2 separate regions of the Homo sapiens genome follow, and region 2 is linked to region 1. The links come from fine-mapping of genetic effects on gene expression. Tissue or cell type: whole blood. Region 1 holds a variant in brackets; the other region holds the start of a gene. All regions are shown on one strand. Distances are between the middles of the regions.

The links. PIP is the estimated chance that this variant, and not a neighbour inherited with it, causes the effect.
Region 2: it holds the start of ZNF528-AS1, and the variant in region 1 is fine-mapped to the expression of ZNF528-AS1 in whole blood (TOPMed, PIP above 0.99).

The regions. Positions count from the first base shown.
Region 1 is chr19:52,374,480-52,379,626 of GRCh38, forward strand. All of the region lies in intron 3 of ZNF880 (zinc finger protein 880), which reads left to right. Among named protein-coding and RNA genes, the nearest start is that of ZNF880, 7.1 kb to the left of the region's middle. The variant C/T (reference allele first, on the strand shown) is at 3,034.
Region 2 is chr19:52,395,059-52,400,205 of GRCh38, forward strand. ZNF528-AS1 (ZNF528 antisense RNA 1) reads right to left here and starts at 2,699. Exons shown (of 7, transcript NR_125345.1): 1 at 2,404-2,699; 2 at 2,137-2,209; 3 at 1,552-1,694; 4 at 1,307-1,441; 5 at 540-692. ZNF528 (zinc finger protein 528) reads left to right here and starts at 2,791. Exons shown (of 7, transcript NM_032423.3): 1 at 2,791-2,846; 2 at 3,309-3,561. It also overlaps a transcript of ZNF880 not described here. RefSeq lists an enhancer at 2,103-3,302.

The sequences.
Region 1 (5,147 bases):
ACAGGGTCTTGCTCTGTCACCCAGGCTGTCGTAGAGTGGCAATCATCAGTGGCAATCGTGGCTTAACTCATAGCCTCAAACTCCTGGTCTCAAGTGATCCTCCTTCCTCTGCTTCCGAAAGTGGTGGGATTACAAGCATGAGCCACTGTACCCTGCAAAACCACACTTTGAGTTTCTGTTTGGGAGCTCTCTGCAAGTGAGAGAATTCTTTGGGAAAATAAAAGTTTAAATCCTGTGAGTTCTGATTGAAGTTTGTTTTGTCTTGTTTTGTTGAGACAAGTTCTTGCTCTGTTGCCCAGGCTGGAGTGTAGTGGTGGTGTGATCGTAGCCCGTGTACCCTCAGTCTTTGGGCTCATATGATCATCTCACCTCTGCCTGCCAAGTCACTGGGACTGTAGGCATGTGCCATTGCATCTTGCTAATTTTTAAAAAATCTTTTGTGGAGATGAGGTCTCACTAGGTTGCACAGGCTTGTCTTGAACTCCTGGCCTCAACTATTCTTCCCACCTGGCCTGCCAACGTGCTTGGATTGCAGGCATGACCCACCATGCCTGGCCTAGAAGGGAAATTTTTCTTTGCCCCCTCTTACTGCTGCTGTGTTCTTTGTTTTTGGCGTTTTGTTTGTTTGCTTGTTTGTTTTTGAGATGGAGTCTCACTGTGTTACCCAAACTAGTATTGGTTTTTTTTTTTTAATTTTTAATTTATTTTTATTAATTTATTTTTTTGAGACAGAGTCTTGCTCTGTCGCCCAGGCTGGAGGGCAGTGGCACGATCCTGGCTTACTGCAACCTCTGCCTCTCAATTTCAAGCCATTCTCATGCTTCAGGCTCCCAAGTAGCTGGGATTACAGGCGTGCACCACCAAGCCTGGCTAATTTTTTTTTTGTATTTTTAGTGGAAACGGGGTTTCACCATGTTGACCAAGCTGGTCTCGAACTCCTGGCCTCAAGTGATCCACCCACCTTGGCCTCCCAAAGTGCTGGGATTACAAACATGAGCCACTGCTCCCGGGCATAATGTTATTATTATAATTATTTCAATAGGGTTTTGGGGAACAAGTGGCATTTGGTTACGTAGATAAGTTCTTTAGTGGTGGTTTCTGAGATTTTGGTGCACCCATCACCCGAGCATTGTACGCTACATTCAATATATAGTCTTTTATCCCTCACCCCCCTCCCACCTTTTCCCCCAAGACCCCAAAGTCCATTGTATCGCCTTTGCATCCTCCCAGTTTAACTCCCACTTATGAGTGAGAACATACAATGTTTGGTTTTCCCTCAGGCTTTGGGCTCATATGATCATCTTGCTCTGCCTGCCAAGTCACTGGGACTGTAGGCATGTGCCATTGCATCTTGCTAATTTTTAAAAAATGTTCTGTGGAGATGAGGTCTCACTAGGTTGCCCAGGCTTGTCTTGAACTCCTGGCCTCAACTATTCTTCCCACCTGGCCTGCCTAAGTGAGTTAGTTCATTTAGAATAATGGCCTTCAATTCTATCCAGGTTGCTGCAAATGCCATTATTTCGTTCCATTTTATGGCTGAATAGCATTCCATATTAGTATGCCACATTTTCTTTATCCATTTGTTGATTGATGGGCATTTGAGCTGGTTCTCTATTTTTGCATTTGTGAATTGTGCTGCTATAAACGTGTGTGGAAGTGTCTCTTTTGTATAATGACTTCTTTTCCTCTGGGTAGATACCCAGGAGTGGTTTTGCTGGATCAAATGGTAGATCTACTTTTAGTCCTTTAAGGAATCTCCCCGCTGTTCTCCATAGTGGTTGTACTAGTTTCCATTCCCACCAGCAGTGTAAAGTGGTCCCTTTCACCACATCCACACCAACATGTAGTATGTTTTGATTTTTTGATTATGGCCATTCTTGCAGGAGTAAGAGGGTATTATATTATAGTTTTAATTTGCATTTCTCTGATAATTAGTGATGTGGAGTCTTTCTTCATATGTTTGTTGGCCATTTCTGTATTTTCTTTTGACAATTGTCTATTCATGTCCTTAGCACCGCCCCCCCCCCCCCTTTTTTTTTTTTTTTTTTGAGACAGCGTCTTGCTCTGTCGCCCAGGCTGGAGTGCAATGGCATGATCTCGGCCCCCTGCAACCTCCACCTCCCGAGTTCAAGCAATTCTCCTGCCTCAGCCTCCTGAGTAGCTGGGATTACAGGTACCCACTGCCAAGCCCAGCTAATTTTTGTATTTTTAGTAGAGACGGGGTTTCATTATGTTGGCCAGGATGGTCTCAAACTATTCACCTCAGGTGATCCACCCGCCTTGGGCTCCCAAAATGCTGGGATTATAGGGGTGAGAGACTGTGCCCGGCCCTTAGCCCACTTTTTGATAGGATTGTTTGTTTTTTTCTTGCTGATTTGTTTGAGTTCCTTGTAGATTCTGGATATTAGTCCTTTGTCAGATACATAGTTTGCAAAGATTTTCTCCCATGCTGTGGGTTGTCTGTTTACTCTGCCGATTATTTCTTTTGCTGTGTCATAGGCAAAGTCTTTATCATGATGGACAACACCCTGTCATATGGCTTATGAGAATTCTTTGATTCCATCATTCTGAAGGACATAGGGAGGGCTGTGTCAAAGGGGTCTCTTTTTCCCATGGTCTCTGTTTCTGTAGTGATTTTATCTGATGCTAAGTTTATACATCAAACCTGGGGTCTGCATAGACCTGCCTCCTTGACCTGTGTATGGTCCACACAATTTCCTATATGAGGAAGACCTCATCAGAAGATAGGAAAACATTGGCTGCTCTTTTTTTTTTGCATGTGGGGCTCAAAGATTGCATGAAGGCGTCTCAACCCCTCTTTGCCTCTTGAGGTCTTGTGGAGATAGGGAAAATCCAGTGTTTTTTCTACTCTCAAATGCCACTCAGCAGAGAGCGCTTCACTTCTGGTCAACCGAATGGGTGGGGATTTCTACGCACCAACAACCAGTTTTTCAGTGGCCATCTAATAGTTTTCTATGATGCCTTTCTGATATTATGTATCTGGAATTAGAGTCAGATCCCACAGGCAAAGGG[C/T]TGAGTTCCCAAACACGTCCCCTACCTCAGCAACCAATCACAAGTAGCAGGTTGTCACCTTTCCTTCTTACCAACCAGCTACAGGTTGGGGTTCCCTCAAGCCCCTTCTTGGGGTTGATTACTTTGCTAGGGTGGCCCACAGAACTCAGTAAAACACTTTCTTAGGTTCACTGCCTCACGCTGAAGGATGTTTTGAAGGATACAGATGAAGAGCCGGATGAGGAGATTCACAGGGGGAGGCACGTGGGAAGATTCACTGGGTGTGCCACCCTCCAGGCACCTGTGTGTCTTCAGCATTTGGAAGATCTCGTGACCCCATAGTTCAGGGATTATTTTTTATTTTTTATTTTTTTTAGACAGAGTCTTGCTCTGTCACAGGCTGTAGTGAAGTGGCACAATCTCAGCTCACTGCAATCTCCGCCTCCTGGTTCAAGTGATTCTTCTAGTTCAGGGATTTTTTATGGAGGCTTCATCACATAGGTGTGATTGATATTATCTCAGTCTCCAGCCCCTCTTCCCTTCCTGGAGGATAGTGGATAGGGCTGACACTTTCATGCTTGTAATCATGGCCTGGTCTTTCTGATGATCAGCCCAGTCCAGGGAACCTACAGAGGTTGCCTCATTAGAACAAATCACATTCCTATCACCCAGAACATTCCAAGGAGTTAGGAGCTCTGTGTCAGGAGCCAACGAAGAGACCAATGTATGCATTTCTTATTTTACAAGGTTCCTCAGCCATTCTTCAGTTGTGCTTTGTCCATACTTTAGTGGTGTGTGTAACGGGAGTAGGTGGCTCTTCTGAGATTTTTACTCAGCAGAATGGGAAAGACAGTTGACAGAAGGATCCTTTAGGCCGGGGCGGTGTCTCACGCCTGTAATCCCAGCACTTTGGGAGGCTAGGGCAGGCGGATCAGAAAGTCAGGGGATCGAAACCATCCTGGCCAACATGGTGAAACCCCGTCTCTACTAAGAATATAAAAAAAAATTAGCTGGGTGTGGTGGTGCATGCCTGTAGTCCCAGCTACTCGGGAGGCTGAGGCAGGAGAATCGCTTCAACCCGGGAGGTGGAGGTTGCAGTGAGCCAAGATCGTGCCACTGCACTCTGGCCTGGTGACAGAGCGGGACTCTGTCTCAAAAAAAAAAAAAAAAAAAAAGAAAGATCCTTTATTGGATGCCCGAGTCCTCGTGACAGAATAGCTCACTAGAATGATACATCTGGTTATAAGACTAAAGCCACTGCTGATTTTATTTTGGGCCTTTCCATGTATTAGAAATGAACTTGGGGCCAGGCACAGTGGCTCACACTTGTAATCCTAGCACTTTGGGAGGCTGAGGTTAGTGGATTGATTGAGCCCAGGAGTTTGAGACCAGCCTGGACAACATGGCAAGAACTTGTCTCTACAAAACATATAAAAATTTGGCTGTGGTGGTGCACACCTGTAGTCCTAGCTACTCAGGAGGCTGAGGTGGGAGAATCACCTGAGCCCAGGAGGTCAAGGCAGCAGCCAGCCATGATGGCGTCACTGAACTCCAGCCTTAGTACAGAGTGATACCCTGTCTCAGAAAAAAAAATAAGAAGAAAATAAAAAATAAATGAACTTATTTGTATTTAGTCAACAGTTCCATATGGTACTCTTTGTCTTCTTTGTTTTATATGTGTGGGGATGTTGTATCAGGGAATGGCCATTGATTTATATATTTTTGAGGACCTTTATTTTATTTTATTTTTTGCCTAGGAGTTTATGTAACACTTATATACACTCCAGGAGTTTTGGAATGGGTAGTATAAATATTTCTTTTCCTTTCCTTTACCTGATTAAGATATTAAATAATATTTTTGTCAGTTACGTTTATTAGAATGTATAAATTGGGAATTTATTTTCATTTTTCTTTTTTTTTTTTTGATAGAGTCTCGCTCTGTCACCCAGGCTGGAGTGCAATGCCGCGATCTCGGCTCACTGCAACCTTCGCTTCCTGGATTCAAGCAATTCTTCTGCATCGGCCTCCCCAAGTGCTAGGATTACAGGCGTGAGCCTCCGCGCCTGGCCTCATTTTTAATTTTTTTAGAGACAGGGTTTCACTCTGCTGCCCAGGCTAGATGGCAGTGGTGCAGT
Region 2 (5,147 bases), 21 kb after region 1:
GATGTAGCTACCTTCCTTTGGGAAAGGTATTAGCCTGCACAACCAACATATTTTCTGTTGGTACACTATTTTTTTTGTCCTGTCCTCAGGCCACCCTCCTTCCTCAGCCTCCCAAAGCACTGTGATTACAGGCCTCAGACACCACACCCAGCCTGTCACTTTTATTTCTTTTTCCTTTATTTCACTGGCTGGAACCTTTCATATTGTGTGGAATAGTAGTGATAAGAGGGGACATTCTTGCCCTCATCCCAACCTCTAGGGGAAACTATGCTTTCACCAGTTTGTATGATGATTCTGATTCTGTAAGGATTGGTAGGTGATCTTGAGTTGAGGAAGTTTCCCATGATACTGCTTTCCATACTGACCGCAGTATTTCAGATTCCCACAAAATGTACGAAAATAGTTTCTCCACATCCTTGCTTGTGAAGCAGGTTCACTGCACACTGGTTGCCAATGTGTCTGAGTTGAGTGAGAGATAATCTCACGGACACACAGTAAGTTACATGAAGTGAATTTGTTACATACAGATCGGCAGATACCTGGGATTCATGCATTCTGCTCCCCAAGGCTCAGGAAAACCACCCAGTGCAGATGCAGTCTCTCTGTATGTGTTCAACTTGCATCACAGCTGTGGGAGGCTGGAAGGCGGCCCATCCTGGGTTTCATGCTCCAGGGATGCATGGCACGTTGGCCTAAAGCAACAAAGGGGATCCTGTTCTGGGGATCTGGAACACATCCTGTCCTTTTCTCACCGGTCCCTTCCTCTCAGGATGTTGCTTTTCCAGCACATTCTATATTCATTCTTGGGAACTACAAGTGAGAAGTCAGATGCAACTGGGCCAATTCAACCCCACTTGAATGCTGTCCTGCAGTCTCTCCGCCAATCCAGATATCCCTTTTATTTTTATATTTTTTGAGACGGAGTCTCGCTCTGTCTCCCAGGCTGGAGTGCAGTGGCGCAATCTTGGCTTACTGCACCTCCACCTCCCAGATTCAAGCAATTCTTGTGTCTCAGCCTCTCGAGTAGCTGGGACTACAGGCGTGTGCCACCATGCCTGGCTAATTTTTTTTTTTTTTTTTTTTGTATTTTTAGTAGAGACTTCGTTTCACCATGTTAACCAGGCTGGTCTCTAATTCCCGACCTCAGGTGATCTGCCCTCCTCGGCCTCCCAAAGTATTGGGATTACAGGCGTGAGCCACCACGCCTGGCCCAGATATCCCCTTTAATAAAGCTAGTCCATTTACATGTGCACTGACCTCCCTGGATCTGGAGGTAGAGGCTGGTCTCAGGAGATTGAAGTAATACCTCGACTGGCAGAATCTCAGGGCAACATCATTGAGGTACAGCCAGTTGCATTTCACTAGGCTCAAGAGGATTGCTGCCTCAAGCAGGATAACCAGGCCTGCCTGGAGCAGTGCCGTAGTCCAGGATCCCAGTGACCTAGGTGAGAAGTTGGTACTCAGATCAAAGAAAAGTTCTTCAGGTGACCCCACTGTCTGCAGCCAATGGGCCTGCTTGTGGGCCTTATGTATTTGTGTTTCAAAAATAACCTGAGGGCTTGATGTGGGGGTCCTTATCTCCCATGCAAGGTGATTCATGCCTATAATCCGAGCACTTTGGTAGGAGCAGATGGGAAGACTGCTTGAGGCTAGAAGCTGGAGACCAGCCTGGGCAACAAAACCAGACTACATCTCTATTAAAAACAAAGCAACAAACAGTAGAAAATTAGCACAGTGGAGAGGCACAGGCCTTTACTCACAGCTACTCGGCAGGCTGAGACAGGGGGTCACCTGCCCAGGACCCCAGGAAGTCAAGGTTGCAGTGAGCTATGATTGCGCCACTGCATTTCAGCCTCGGTGGCAGAGACCCTGTCTTAAAATTTTAAAAAGTATTAAAAAACTAAGTTGGACCGGGCGTGGTGGCTACTCTGGAGGCTGGGGCAAGAGAATCACTTGAACCCAGGAGGCGGAGGTTACAGTGAGCTGAGTGCCTGCCACTGTACTCCCGCCTGGGGGACAGAGGGAGACGCTGTCTCAAAACAACAACAACAACAAAAAACTACGTCGTTTATGGCTATTTTTATAAGTTACTGGCTTTTTTTTTTTAAAGAATCGGTGACTTATCTTCACACTGGCCTTAGTCCTCCATGCCCAACACGATGTCCCTAGGAAAGTCTCTGGAATTGAGCACAGGGTTGACCTTCACCGTCTAGAGTGAATGGGGAAGATAAATGAAAAGTATTTATCTTCTATGGGCACTGGCATGAAATAGAACATTCTACCCTGGCAGGGTTTTGCATTTCACATTTTAGCTTGCATCATCCCCTTCACAGACAATTCCAAAGTGTGTTAATTCAATTCCTAAAGCTTCCCTTCCCTTCCTCCCTTCCCTTCCCTCCTTACTTTTCTTTCTTGTCCATTTATTTTCGGTTTTTTTCTCTTTCTTTCTTGGTTTTCTTTCTCTTTTTCAACTTCTCTTTCTTTTCTCTTTCTCTTTACTCTCTCTCTTCTCTCTCTTTCTGCTTCCAGGGTAGGTGGGACTTGAAATTCATTTTAATAGAAGGAATTTTCGTGGATATAATCTACAACCGATTTTGCTCTGCGCAGGTAAGATCCGTTTTCAGACCAAAACCCTGAAAACAAGCGCAGCCAGTCAAGCGAACGGAAGCGCAGGCCCGGCCCAGGCTTTGTCCCGGCCCGCCCTGGTCCCAGCCAGTCCGGCCTCTAGGATGCGCGCGCAATTTCGTGCAAACCCGGAAGCGGACCGCGGGGGGCGAACGCCTAGAGCGCAGTTTCCGGTAGACCCGGAAGCCGATTGCAGGGAGAAACTGTTTTCGCAGCAGTGCGTGAGTTTCCCTTTGTCTATGTTAAGTCTAGGCTAGCCAGTTCTTCTCTGCTTCTATACCCGGGAGCTGAGGGGCATGCAGACCTTGAAATCCCGGCACCGCTCCCTCCACCCCGAGTAAATTCAGACATCCTTTGAGAGTCTGGGAGTCGCTTTCTGCGTGTTAAAATCGCTTGGAGGCTGGTCGTGTGCCCGGTCTTTTTGTCATTTACCCACGTAGACACCTCCTATCGTGGGGTTTACCTGCTTCAAATCCTTTAGTAACCCCTACACACGCCCCGCACCACGTAAAATCCTCACTCTCCGTTCCCCTAGCCTCGCCCTTCTTTGCCCCTAGAGCTCAGCGCCCCAACAGGGCACGAGAGGCCTCGTCCTCTGCCCAGACCTGGTTTCTGCAGACTCCACCCCTCTCCTGACCCACTCCTGCCTTTTTGCTCCTTAATCTGGACCCTCTGTTCCCCAGGCCTCCCTTTTCCAGCCACCGGTTCTCCTGACCCCGAGTGTGGGGGGTGACTTCAGTCTCCTGACATCCAGTGTTCTCTCGAGCCAGTTTCCAGCCCACAGAAAATGAGCTCTTCCGGAAGTGGGCATCTTATTCCAATCCCCTCCCTGTGAATGTGTGGAGAAAAAGAGATGGGAACGAGGCAGAGGAAATAGAGAAATTTTGAAAGAGAAATGAAGAATGAGAGACCCATTAACAGAAGGCAAAGTAGAAGGTGAGTGAGGGGTTTGCAGAGGCACAGTGAAAGAAGGTGCCGAGAAAATAGCAGGGGAGAAAAGTAACTGTAAAAATATAGACAAACCTGGGTCTGTAGAAAGACGAAATTCAACAAGATAGGGAAGGCTTCTCAGACAGAGGGGGGAGAGGAGGAGGGATTTGGAGCCAGGTCAGACAGAGCAGCGTGGTGCTGGGACAGCCAGAGGGGGCAGCTGGTCACAAGGAGAACAGGGAGAACCACAGCAGGGGGAGGCCTGGGATCTAAGGGTGCCAGAGAGTGGGGACAGGGGTGTGTAATATCGAAGATGGAATTTAACAGGGAGACCCCAAGGGGAGCTGAGATGTGGGAGGAAAGAGGCAGAAATATATGGAGATTAGGGACAATGAAAGATTGGGCAGAAAGAGGAATAAGAGGTGAAACAAGTTGTAAAAATGGATCAGAACAGGTGGGAGAGAAGGAATAGAGGGAAGAATGGGACAAAGAGAAGAGGAGGGACTCAAAATGAACAGAATCCTAGGGGAAAATAGAGAAAAAAAGAGCTAGGAAAAAAGATGAGAATGAGAGATATGTACAGAATGAGGCAGGGAAACAGTAGTGAGGAAAGAGGGGGACCCTGGTTACAGATGAGTGGTGAGTTGATTGGAAATTATGATTGAATTGTGACATATTAATTTTTCTATAATATAAAATTTGTTTAGAACACATGAGGCTAGGAGCTGTGGCTCACACGTGTAATCCCAGTACTTTGGGAAGCTGAGGTGAGCGGATCACTTGAGGTCAGGAGTTGAGACCAGCCTGGCCAACATGTGAAACCCATCTCTAGTAAAAATACAAAAATTAGCTGGGCCTGATGGCCTGCGCCTGTAATCCCAGCTACTCTGGAGGCTGAGGCAGGAGAATCGCTTAATCCTGGGAGGCAGAGGTTGCAGTGAGCCGAGATCGTGTCACTGCACTCCAGGTTAGGTGACAGAGCAAGACTCCATCTCAAAAAACAAAAAACAAAAAACCACACATGAAGATGAGAATTGGAACACTATTTATAAGGCACTCTTCTCTTTTCTTGGGATGGACTAGGGTGTGAGTGTATAAGTTAGGAAAAACCAGTGTGTTTTTGTGTTCACAGTGAACACAATAAAGAGCGCTCAACACAGAATGCCTCATCTCTGGTCACCAAAGTAATATGGGAATTACTTGTCACCAACAAGCAGTTCTTCGTCAGACAGCACCTGGGTGTTCTGTAATTTTACTCAGTTTAACTGGTCAGTGTAGGAACAACCACAGACACATTTTGATCACTAAAGGTGAGGGATTCTCCTTTGGGTGTGAGAGTAGTAAAAACAGTGTGGTTTTTTCCTGTCTCAAACAGTAAGGGGAAGAATTTTCCAACAGGCCCACTCACCTGTCTCTAGGACTGTGTTCTTAGTAGTGACTGGGAATTGTCTGTCCCTGCTCCTGGCTGCTGCTGATGCTGAGACTGTGTGCCACAGGCCAGCCCCATTCACTCTCTCCTGATGCCACGGCATCCCTCCTCCACAGTGTCATCAGATTTTACTTCAAGGGAATTATTTTGGTCAGCATACCCA